Regions from separate parts of the Homo sapiens genome. Here region 1 is linked to region 2. A link means that fine-mapping ties the variant in region 2 to the plasma level of a protein whose gene starts in the linked region. Region 2 holds a variant in brackets. A gene starts in the other region. All regions are shown on their forward strands.

What was found. A credible set is the group of variants that fine-mapping cannot tell apart. PIP is the chance, under the fine-mapping model, that this variant and not a neighbour inherited with it causes the effect. The UK Biobank Pharma Proteomics Project read protein levels with antibody pairs (Olink). The fine-mapping took linkage between variants from a reference panel, not from the people measured, so its PIPs are less certain.
Region 1: C6orf58 starts here. The variant in region 2 is the best candidate, but not a certain one, in a credible set for the plasma level of the C6orf58 protein (UK Biobank, PIP 0.55).

The regions. Positions count from the first base shown.
Region 1 is chr6:127,574,267-127,579,650 of GRCh38, forward strand. It overlaps C6orf58 (chromosome 6 open reading frame 58), which reads left to right and starts at 2,908. Exons shown (of 6, transcript NM_001010905.3): 1 at 2,908-3,220; 2 at 4,420-4,506. The coding sequence starts at 2,920.
Region 2 is chr1:206,930,502-206,935,870 of GRCh38, forward strand. PIGR (polymeric immunoglobulin receptor) reads right to left here. Exons shown (of 11, transcript NM_002644.4): 5 at 4,985-5,317; 6 at 3,919-4,245; 7 at 2,485-2,665; 8 at 1,955-2,076; 9 at 1,170-1,301; 10 at 996-1,054. Among named protein-coding and RNA genes, the nearest start is that of FCMR, 11 kb to the left of the region's middle. RefSeq lists enhancers at 1-337, 1-530. The variant C/T (reference allele first, on the strand shown) is at 1,795.

The DNA.
Region 1 (5,384 bases), not on the chromosome of region 2:
TCTACTTTATAGTTAAGAAAAAATGGGCACAGAAATGTTGAAAGACAAAATTAGAATGTCTGTTCAGATTAGGTTCTCCAAGCAGTACAAATCCATAAAAAAAAATTGCCTTAAGTTAAAATTTTATTTCTTTCATAGAGACAGCAATCAGAAGTAGACAATCTAGAGCTGTAGAGACTAGAAACCAAAAGTCTTCTATTTTATTGTTCTCCTACCTTTTCTTGCTCCTTCATAATCTAAGACAGCATCAGTCTCTAGTTACATTTACATTCCAGCCAGCAGAGGAAGAAATAACAAAGAATAAAGGACAAGGTATAAAGGAGATTCCTTGAAAGCTGCAACTTAACAATTTGGCCACAGCTTTATCAAGTAGCTACATCTAGCAGTGAGACTAAATAATATAATCTCTATTCCAGGAAGACTCTGTTGTGCTAAGGATTAAGGGTGTTCTTACAAAGAAATAAGAGAAGAGTGAATATCACGTTATGTAACTATCAGTGCATGCCGTGATATGTTTGATGTTCATTTGAGGTTTATTTGTAAGCGTCTAACTTATTTCCTCTTCTATTAATAATTTTTGCATGAGAAGATCCAGATTCTACTATTGACATTATTTCTTTTATATCCTTAACAAATATCTTTCCATCAAGATGTGCTCTTACTTTTTTCCCACTGTATATGGGATTCCAATAACTACTCCACTAGTGGACATAGAAGCAATGTCTAGATCTAGTTCCAGTATAGCTCCTCTTTAAATTCTCATTTGTATTTTGGTCTTCATTTAAAATCTTTCTCTAATATAGTTCAATATTTCTGTTTTATTTAACCTGTAACTGGTCACACTATTACATCAATGACTGTGGTGTGTTACTTTAATTTTTGAGGGCTTATAATAATCTTCTAATATCTGTTATGGAAAGTTTCCTTTCACTATTATTATCCATTATTATTAGAGTTTTTGTATTTTCTTCATAATTTATTTTTTAGGCAAATTTTAGCCTCAGTCCTAAAAATCTTTCCAGAAAGCACATCTAAAAATCCTGTTAATATTTCTCATTTATTGTACAAATTTATAAATTAACATGTTGATAATGTTGAGTCTATTGAGAAACATTGTATGACTTTAAAACTGTTCAATTTTTTTGTAGTCTTAGAGATTTTTCCAAACAGATCTACCATAATTATACATTTATATGTTGGCCCTTTTGTTGACAATAAAATGAGGACTTTTCTTCCATTTTCACCTATTATATTTCCCAATTGCTTTTATATATAAAAGCTATTGATTTATATATAGTAATTTAGTTCTTAACCACTTTAGTAAATTTTTTCTTTGTAGTTACCCTTCTAGTTTATTCTCTTATGTTTTCTGAACACTGTCATATCATCTATAAGGGAAAGTACTAGCACATCTTCATTCTCAATTTTATACCTCTAATTTATTTATCTTTACTAACTTTATTGTTTGGTATCCTCAAAGAAAAGTTAAATGATTATAATGCTGGTGGTCATTTTTATTTTATTTCTGACCTTAAAGGAGTGCTCTTAAGATTTCTCCATTGAGAACAATCTGGCATTTGGTTTTAGAGTAACACATCTTACAGTACATATTCACGTATATATTCTTATAAACATTTAATATACTTTTAAAATTTCCAGAATGATTGCATTCTTGATCTATAGTAGCAATTCCTACCATTCCCTTTTATATTAATATATCTGGAAAATTTATTAATTATCAAATGGCTATTGGGTAAATAATATGACAGGAAAAAAGAGTGGAATCATGCTGTAGGATGTTTAATGTGGACCATGCCAGGAACAAGCAGTACCAGTGACCTACTATGAAGCATATGCATCTAATTGTGTAAATAATTGAGATTTTCAGATGCATTACCTATTAATAAGGCAAGAATTTTTACTATGTGTGAATAAAACTTCAATAACAGTGGTTGAAACAAGAGAGTGGGGTGTTTCTTGCTCAGGTAAAACTCAGATATAGGAATTCAAGGACATCTCATGGCTCCACAGCCCTCTGGGACTCAAGCCACCTCCAGCTTTGCATTCTGTCATCCCTAAGATAGTGCCTTGCGTTTAGGGGTCAGAATTGAATTTCAATCATCACATCAATAATCCAAGCCACAACATGGAGGAAGGGAAGAGGAATTGACATGTGCCCTTCATTTTAGGACATGTTCCAGAAATTGTGGATACTATTTCTATTTATGTCTCTGTGGTCCACACTTAGTCACATGGTTGCTTGTGTAAAGCAAATTGGAAATTTAGCCTTAATTCTGGGAGACCATATTCCCAGCTAAAATTCTACGATTCTTTTACTAATAAAGAATGAAAAATAGATATTAAGAATTAACTAGCAGGTTTTGTTCCAGCAGGCTGACTTTCATTATTGAATTGAGCTAATTAGATATTCTTTAAGCTTCTTTCTTGAAGCAGAACATTGTATTACAACTGGATCACACATATTTTTAGTACACATTTGAAGATTATTATAAATCCTAGTATTTCCATCTCCAGCTATTTAATATTTTCCATGAAATATGTTAAAGTATTTTTATTAGAGGGAAGCATTCTAAAGCCATTTGTGATGTATTTTGTAATCACAATGCAGCCTGGGAAACTTCTGGAAGGTTTTTGTTGATAAATAGTTTTATCTAATACATTATAAACAAGCCTAACCTTGTATTTAGGTTCTGACACAGTATTCTGACGCTGAAGAGTCTGGGAAATTTAATTGTCCTAAATGTTAGCTAATACATCAATTTCTTCTACATTTTCACCCTATCCAGGAAAACAAAAAAGCAAAGTGTTGATATGCTGTGAGGTTAGCAAATATCATGACTTCCTCTTCCATTCTCCAATAAAAGCCCTGCTACGATCGCAATCCCCAGCTCTGGCACAATGGCTTTTCTTCCTTCCTGGGTTTGTGTACTAGTTGGTTCCTTTTCTGCTTCCTTAGCAGGGACTTCCAATCTCTCAGAGACAGAGCCCCCTCTGTGGAAGGAGAGTCCTGGTCAGCTCAGTGACTACAGGGTGGAGAACAGCATGTACATTATTAATCCCTGGGTATACCTTGAGAGAATGGGGATGTATAAAATCATATTGAATCAGACAGCCAGGTATTTTGCAAAATTTGCACCAGATAATGAACAGAATATTTTATGGGGGTTGCCTCTGCAGTATGGCTGGCAATATAGGACAGGTAAGAATGACTCTTGTTTTCATTGTAATGATCTACCGATAGACCTATGAAGTATTTGGGAAATTGGACTCTGTATATACCCTACTATGTTTTTAAAAATTGATTCTTTATCTTGTTCTCTTTTCCCTTATAATCATTGTTTTTCTACCTATCCTTCTCCTTATCCACAAATCCTTCTTTTGTGGGTTGTGTGTTATTATTAGAAGCTTCAATGAGGCATAAGACATAGTTATCAACTGTGAAAAGACATCACATCTCATCTATTGAGCATTTCACAAATATTTGTTGAAGTTCTACTAAGTGCCACACTCCTTTCTAAGCAATGAGATGAACAAAACAGTCAAGGGGATATACAAAGTGATGTCCAATTAGTTTGAATTTCTTGAAGTTCTAATTATGATATGAGGTTATAAAGAAGCATCACATTGTTCATGAAGATCTTTCTCTGTAAAATGTTTGCTTCCTCTTGGAAATAAGGTACCTTACAGTGTATAGACAGAAGTTACATTTTGGGATAAAATATACATGAATTGAAAGATACTTTTGTTCTGGTTGATAGAAGCTCATGAGAAAGAGTGGTGCCTGTTGCCCACTCCCTGCTGATGACACAGCCAATAAAGAAATTATTGTGTGTGAGAGAGAGGTTAAGAAAAGAGCAATTTCATTTGGAAGAAAAACAATGATTATTTTCTAATATTTACATAATGCATATTACAGGTGAAACACCTTTGGTGCTTTTTCTCACCTCACATCACAACCTTATAATGTAGTTAATATTATTATCCCCATGTCATAGATGAGAAAACTAAGGCATTAGAGGTTATTTAGATAAAGTCAAGCTAGTAAGTGGTAGAGCAGGGGTTTGTTTTGACTCTCGACCATCTCTTTTCATCTGTATGCATATTGCTTCATAGTTTCGATTAGAAGGTAGAGGAGGAAATAGAAGAGAGTATCCTTACAAAAGTAAATAATATTTAGGACCTATAACTCAAAAGTAGAAAACTGTGTTGTTAAGGAAAAGGAAAGAAATTAGAAACTAAAAAATAAAAGATAAAAAAAGAATGATGGGAATACAAACACATATCATTCAGAAATAAATGCTTTTGTATCTACAAACAAAATCTATGTGGTTAAGCAATAGTTACAGCCAGTTTCAAAATGCGTATAATAAATACGACTGTGCATCCTCTCTCCTCCAGGCAGATTAGCTGATCCAACCCGAAGGACAAACTGTGGCTATGAATCTGGAGATCATATGTGCATCTCTGTGGACAGTTGGTGGGCTGGTATGTTCGTTTAAGTGGCAAAATAGATATTAACCTTTCCTGAAAGAAAGCATTCAAACCTAAAATCTTAGGGACAGAGACAGAACTAAAATAATCCTGTTCCTATTTTAAAAAGGAATCTATTTCACCGTGTACCTTATGGCCTTTAGGTCACTTTAAGGGATTTAAGAGCCACAATGTCAATAATGATTCCTTAGGACATATCCAGCTTTTCACAGAAGGACGAAAACAAGGTTCTGCAAAAGCAGTGGCCTCTGAGGGGCCAGCTCTGGTAGTTAGGTGGGAGGTCCAACTGATGACAAAGAATCTCCAGAATAAGGAACGATGAGAAGTGAGACATCAAGACAAATGATGCTTTTTCATTTTGCTCAGACCAGATGTGGTTAATATTGAAACCCATAAACATGCCAGAGATTAATACCTACTGCAATTCATTATACCAATCAGTAATCTCAGGCTTTAATCATATACTTAATGCTAAAATAACCAGAAGGTATTTTCTAATTCTTTCATTTAATTTTATGCTTTAGTAATGAAAACAATTTATACCACAAATCCTTAGAGGTATTTCTCAATAGTTAGAAACACGACCACATTAAATTTCACTTTTTCAGGGCAACACACATCATATGTATCCTTAAGCATTTTCCACTTACTACCCCTAGTTCTTTTAAAAGACTCGCGAATAGTAGTGGCCACAGATCTAGAATTCAGAGTTTGTTATTCTTAGATTGGTTTAGTAGTTTGGAGGATTAGCCTGCTACACTGTGGCATAGGATTCCATTCACAAATGCCTGTCTAGGATGAAATATTCTACATCACTGATTTCTAGTGGAAATCAGTATAAGCCTAATATCCAACTAATGAAAATGTCTGAG
Region 2 (5,369 bases):
CGTGATCTTGGTCCAAGCAACACAAGCCTTTGGGGCCCACTGTTCTCATCCCAGCCCCCATGCTCACCAAGAAGGACGCATTTTGAGAAATGGAAAGTTGCAGCCTCTAAAAATATCTTCTTCTGTCTCACTACCTCCTTCTGACACACGGAGTGGAACCGCCTCTGTTGCCCGGGCCTGTCCCCGGAAGCTGCCCACACAGTCCACGGGCAAGGTGGCCTAGGCTGGGGTCAACCACGGTGGTGTATGTTTTTCTTTCTCCACCAGCCCAGACAGGTAGCTTTTTGGCACCACAAAGTTAAAGGGGAAGGCTGTCCCAGGAATAACTCGTTCTAACTTTGCTAAATGCCAGAGATGTTTCAAGAAAAAGTAGATATGATAAAAACAACAACAACAACAACAAAAACTCTCACCTCGGGATTAAAGGCATGAGATGTTATTTTTCTTGGTCCCCTGAGTCCTAGGGCAGATTGAGGGGATGGTATATGGCACCCAAGGCAGGAGTTGCCTCTGGTGGGGCTTCAAGAGAAGTGAGCAGGGGCTTCTAGCCTCAAACTGCCCACCGCAAGCAAATGTCTCCTAGGCCCAGGCAAAAAGCTGGTCCTGAGCAAACCCTCAAGGGAGGATGTGTGGCCTGAGGTCCTTGGGTCCCCCAACCCAGGAAGAGCATCCATTTAATCACCAGCATTTGGCATTGTAGCTTCCCATCTTTTATGCACCTGCTTTCCTCATCTCCTGGCCTGCCTCTCTCCTGCAGTTTTACAGCCTAATCATATAGCTCACCTCCTTCCTGGGCCTTATCCACATCAGCATCCCACAACCAGTAAGATATAGTTCTTCCTCAAAAAGTCCTGAGGACTCCTGAGGACTATTTATATCATCCTCCCTATTCTGGGATCGGCCCCCATGTTGAGGTAGTTCTTTCTGAAGTCTAACTGCATCCCCTCATGCTGCATTTCTTTGTCATGTAGTGGGGCTTCCTTCTTCCTCCTCACCCTTTTTGCCTTCTTGGGTTCTTTGGTCTCTGTGGTGCTCTCAGTGGTGGCAACAAACTCTGTGTGAAGAAAGAGGGTAGGTTAGCCCTTACTAGCCTCCTTTTCCCAACCCAGATGTGAGACCAATTCTTACTCTCCCCAGGGGCTGAGCATTCCCTTGAGTGAGGGTCATACCTTCTTTTCCTCCGAGGGATGTCTCCTGAGTGATCGAAGAGGCTCCCATGTTGTCATTGGCTCCAAATTCCCTGGAGTTCTCGAAGTCTGACATGCTAATGTCTGTCCTGTAGCTTCTGATTGAAACTCGGTCTGTCCGGGAGGAAGAGGAGTTGGTGTAAGGACAGGGGCTGGGACCTAGAAGGCCAGGCTGGGCTGCTTCTCTCTGGGCGGATCCACTGTAGCCCTGCAGGACAGCTGAGGTGGTGCAGCTCTGACTATGACCCAGGGGGATGGAAATGATCCGAGTCTCCTCCCCAGTCCCTTTTCCTGGGTAATCAGGACTTGGTAATCCCTGATCTTTGTCACTCTGGGACCTTTCAATGCACAGCATCTCCTTTGGTCCTCACATCAGCCCCGTGAGGTCCTGATTATCATCCTTGACTTGAGCCATGAGGAAACTGAGGCATGGCATAAGGATGGCTCAATGTCACACAGCTCATTAGTTATCCAATTAGTCCAAGCCCAGGGTCTCCTGAAACCCAATCTCCTCTTCCTGGCAGCCCTGTCTCTGAACCTAGATCCTGGGTAATTGGAGATGATTTTCCAGTGTTAGTATTTGGACAGCAGCTCTGAATTTCAGTTT[C/T]GAGTATGTGTGGGTTTATCTTTCCCCATCCTGCTTTCTCGGGATCCTTTGTTTTAGCTCATGAAAAAGAAGAGACACAGCAGCTTCCTCTATGGGTGGATGATTCAGGACTGAGGGCTCGGGTTGGAGGTGGGAGGCAGGGAGTATCCCAGGGACTCACCGACGTTCTTCCTGTGCCGGGCTCTGGCCACCCCCACAGCCACGGCTCCCACTGCCAGCACCAGGCCCAGGGGCACCAGGGTGGAGACCAGCGCTCTGGAGCTTCCACCTTGTTCCTCAGAGCTGGAAGAAGGCTTAAGTTAGTTCATCCCTGGAAGGGAGATCTGGGGGCCCGACGATGTGCTGGCAAGGTTGGCTTAGTCCTTTTTCCTCCCAGGTTTATCCACCCCACCCTGCTGATGCAGCTCCCTAGCTCTGTTCTTCTAAGAAGCCTTCCCAGACTGGCAAAGGCACGCACTGGGCCTTGTTGCATCCTAGGCCTGGAAGATTGAACTGAATTGTAAACACCTCCCCAGCCATGGGAGAAGGGCAGAGGGTACCATAGGACCCTCCCACATATAAGCAGAGGTAGTAAGGGCTGCCCCAGTGCTCAAGAGACAGATGGGCTTTCCTCCTTGGACCTGGTGGCCCAGCCTCAGGTGCTCGGCTCTGGGGTGTTCTCCGAGTGGGGAGCCTTGAATCCTTCCTTACCTGCCGGAATCCACAGATGCTCTGCTCCCATCGGCTTGATCTCTTGTATCTGCCACCGCCTTTTCCTCTGCAAAAAGCCTGGGATCCTGAATGGCTTTGTTCTCAATCTCCCGAAAACCAGAGTCTAGCACCTTCTCATCAGGAGCAGCGTCTGCCTTCGCTAGGCTGACATCGCGGGACCCTGCAGCAGGGAAGAGTGGGCCTGGGTTGTGATTTTTCTCTATGCTCTTACTCCTCGAGGTGAAGGAGTCTGGGGGAGACTTCATGAGGAATCACAGGGTCAGGGTTCGATCTCAAGGCTGTTGGGGTAGGACCCAGGATGACATTAGAAACAGCTGTGATGGCCTTCTTCAGCTGTCACAGATGATCTCTGCCCCATTACTACCAAAAGTATAGTGGGGACCTTCAAGGCTTCGTGTCATAGACCAGCTGTGCATAAAGGCTGACCCATCACTTATGCCCGGGAGATTTTCAAGGCTCTGAGACGCTGCCCCAGGCTTCCTGACTGCCCAGCTGGGTATGATAGTGCTGCCCCCTGGAGGTAGCCTGGCGATGGGCCCCTCAGTGAGTCCCATCCGCAGGGTCCAGACCCAATAGGATTTCTTGAGGGACTACAAATACCCTTATTAGGGCTAAAACATTTCATGTGAAATTTTAAAAGGGGACTTGAAATGCAAATTTACTAGATGTTTCCTAATTTTCCTGATCAGACCTTGTAAATGAAGGTATCTGGCCCTCTTTCGAGGGCGAGCTTTGGCAGGGGGAAGGGGGATGAACATATTGCATATGACAGTGATGTATGCATATTATTCTTCTATACAGAGAAGAATATTTCCAGATATAGAAGAGACTTCAATCTGGGTTGAAGTGGCAACTATGGGACTTGTCTTTTTTTTTTTTTTGAAATGGAATCTAGCTCTGTTGCCTAGGCTAGAGTGTGGTGGCACGATCTCAGTTCACTGCAACCCCTGCCTCTTGGGTTCAAGCAATTCTCATGCCTCAGCCACCCAAATAGCTGGGATTACACCACCATGCCCAGCTAATTTTTGTATTTTTAGTAGAGACGAGTTTTCTCCATGTCAGCCAGGCTGGTGTTGAACTCCTGGCCTCAAGTGATCTGCCTACCTCGGCCTCCCAAAGTGCTGGGATTACAGGTGTGAGCCACCACATTCAGCTGGGAGTTGTCTTAATGCCGAGGTTAAATAGCAAACCCACTATTTTTACTTAGTTGGTATGTTTATTTGAGATGTCCCTTTTGAAGGGCTCAACGAGGCTATATAGGACCTAAATGTCCCCTCCCTTCCCACTCTCCACTTTCAGCCTCTTACAGCCAAACATAGGGGCCAGCACTGATTGAGAAGCTCTCAGGCAGGGGCCTTCAGGAAGTCCTGCCTCTGGGTCTGAGGGGTGCAGGCCCTGTCCTTGGAGACTCACCCGCTGCCTTCCTCTCTTCAACTGCCACATAGACGGCTGCAGTCTCTCCATAGAAGTGGCCCTGCTTCACTCCACACCAGTACCAGCCCTCATCAGCCCTGGTCACCAGGTTCAGGGTCAGGGAGACAAGCCGGCTGTTCTCGTCACAGTTCACGAAGGCCTTGCTGGGGCCTTCGTCTTGGCTGGGCAGGGCCTGGCAGCCCGTGTTATTCCACTTGCACCAGTATTTCTCGTACGAGGAGAATTTGCATGGAAAGTGACAGGGGACCTTGAGAGTCTCTCCCAGCACAGCCGTGACATTCCCTGGTACCTTGAGGTTTGGTTCTCCTGGAGGAGGGAGGGAGGTAGAAATAAACACAGAAGTTGGTACTTGGAGATGCTGCAGGGAAGTGACTCTGGTGGGAATCTTTGTCCACATGTCATATACATATATATATATATTTTTGTTTTTGTTTTTGAGACAAGGTCTCTCTCTGTCACCCAGGCTGGAGGGTAGTGGTGCGATCATAGCTCACTGCAGCCTCCATCTCCTGGGCTCAAGCAATCTTCCTGTCTTGGCCTCCCAAGGTGCTGAGATTACAGGCATGCACCACCATGTTCAGTCTACATATCCTCTTTGGATAGCATTAGAAATAAGTATGTTATTCTGACTACAGAAGAAATGTAATTGTGTGCCTAGGTAATAATTATTATTGATGAGCACCATGATCAATCCAGAGTCTACCATAGACCATAGATCTTCACACATGGACTTCAGTTTGCTTTCCTCACTCTTCCTTCTCTTCTAGACTCAATACAAAGAGGTATCTGCAATCCTTGACTTCAGCTGATGCCTGCACACTGCGAAAGAAGCCCATGTTCTTGGTAGTAGGAGGTACCATGTATGGTAATTCAGAGTGTAAGGTGCGTGTTATAGGCATGAAAATGTGACCTCTGGATAGGTGGGCTCCCTCCTGAGGTCTGGCCCATCAGGGTGGAGGCGGGTGAAAAAGGAGGAAGAGTGGTTGGGGATGCTGCTGCTGGCTGGAGAGGTTTTAGAGCTTTCTCCCTCCCTGTCAACTCCTACCTTCGATAATCTTGATCTCCACGGTGGTCCTCCAGAGAGTATCGCCGTTGGTCAGACACCAGTAGAAGCCGGCGTCCCGGCTGGTGAGCTGGTTGAGGATGACAGTGAAGGTGCCGTTGCCTGGCTCCTCCAGCAGGGAGAGGCGGCCCTCGTACTGGGCCTTAACCCACCCCTCGCTGTCCACCAGCAGGGGGCAGCGGCCATTCTGGGCCCCTTCCCAGAGACACCAGTACTTGATGCTTTTGCTTTCCTTACGGTTGTAGGGGCAGAGCACGGCCACAGAGCCTCCTGCCACCCCCTTCACCACAGTGGGGCTGCGGGGAATCGTGGACTCTGGAAGCACAGACAGAGATGGGATGGGAGGATGGCCACGCAGGAAGAGCCT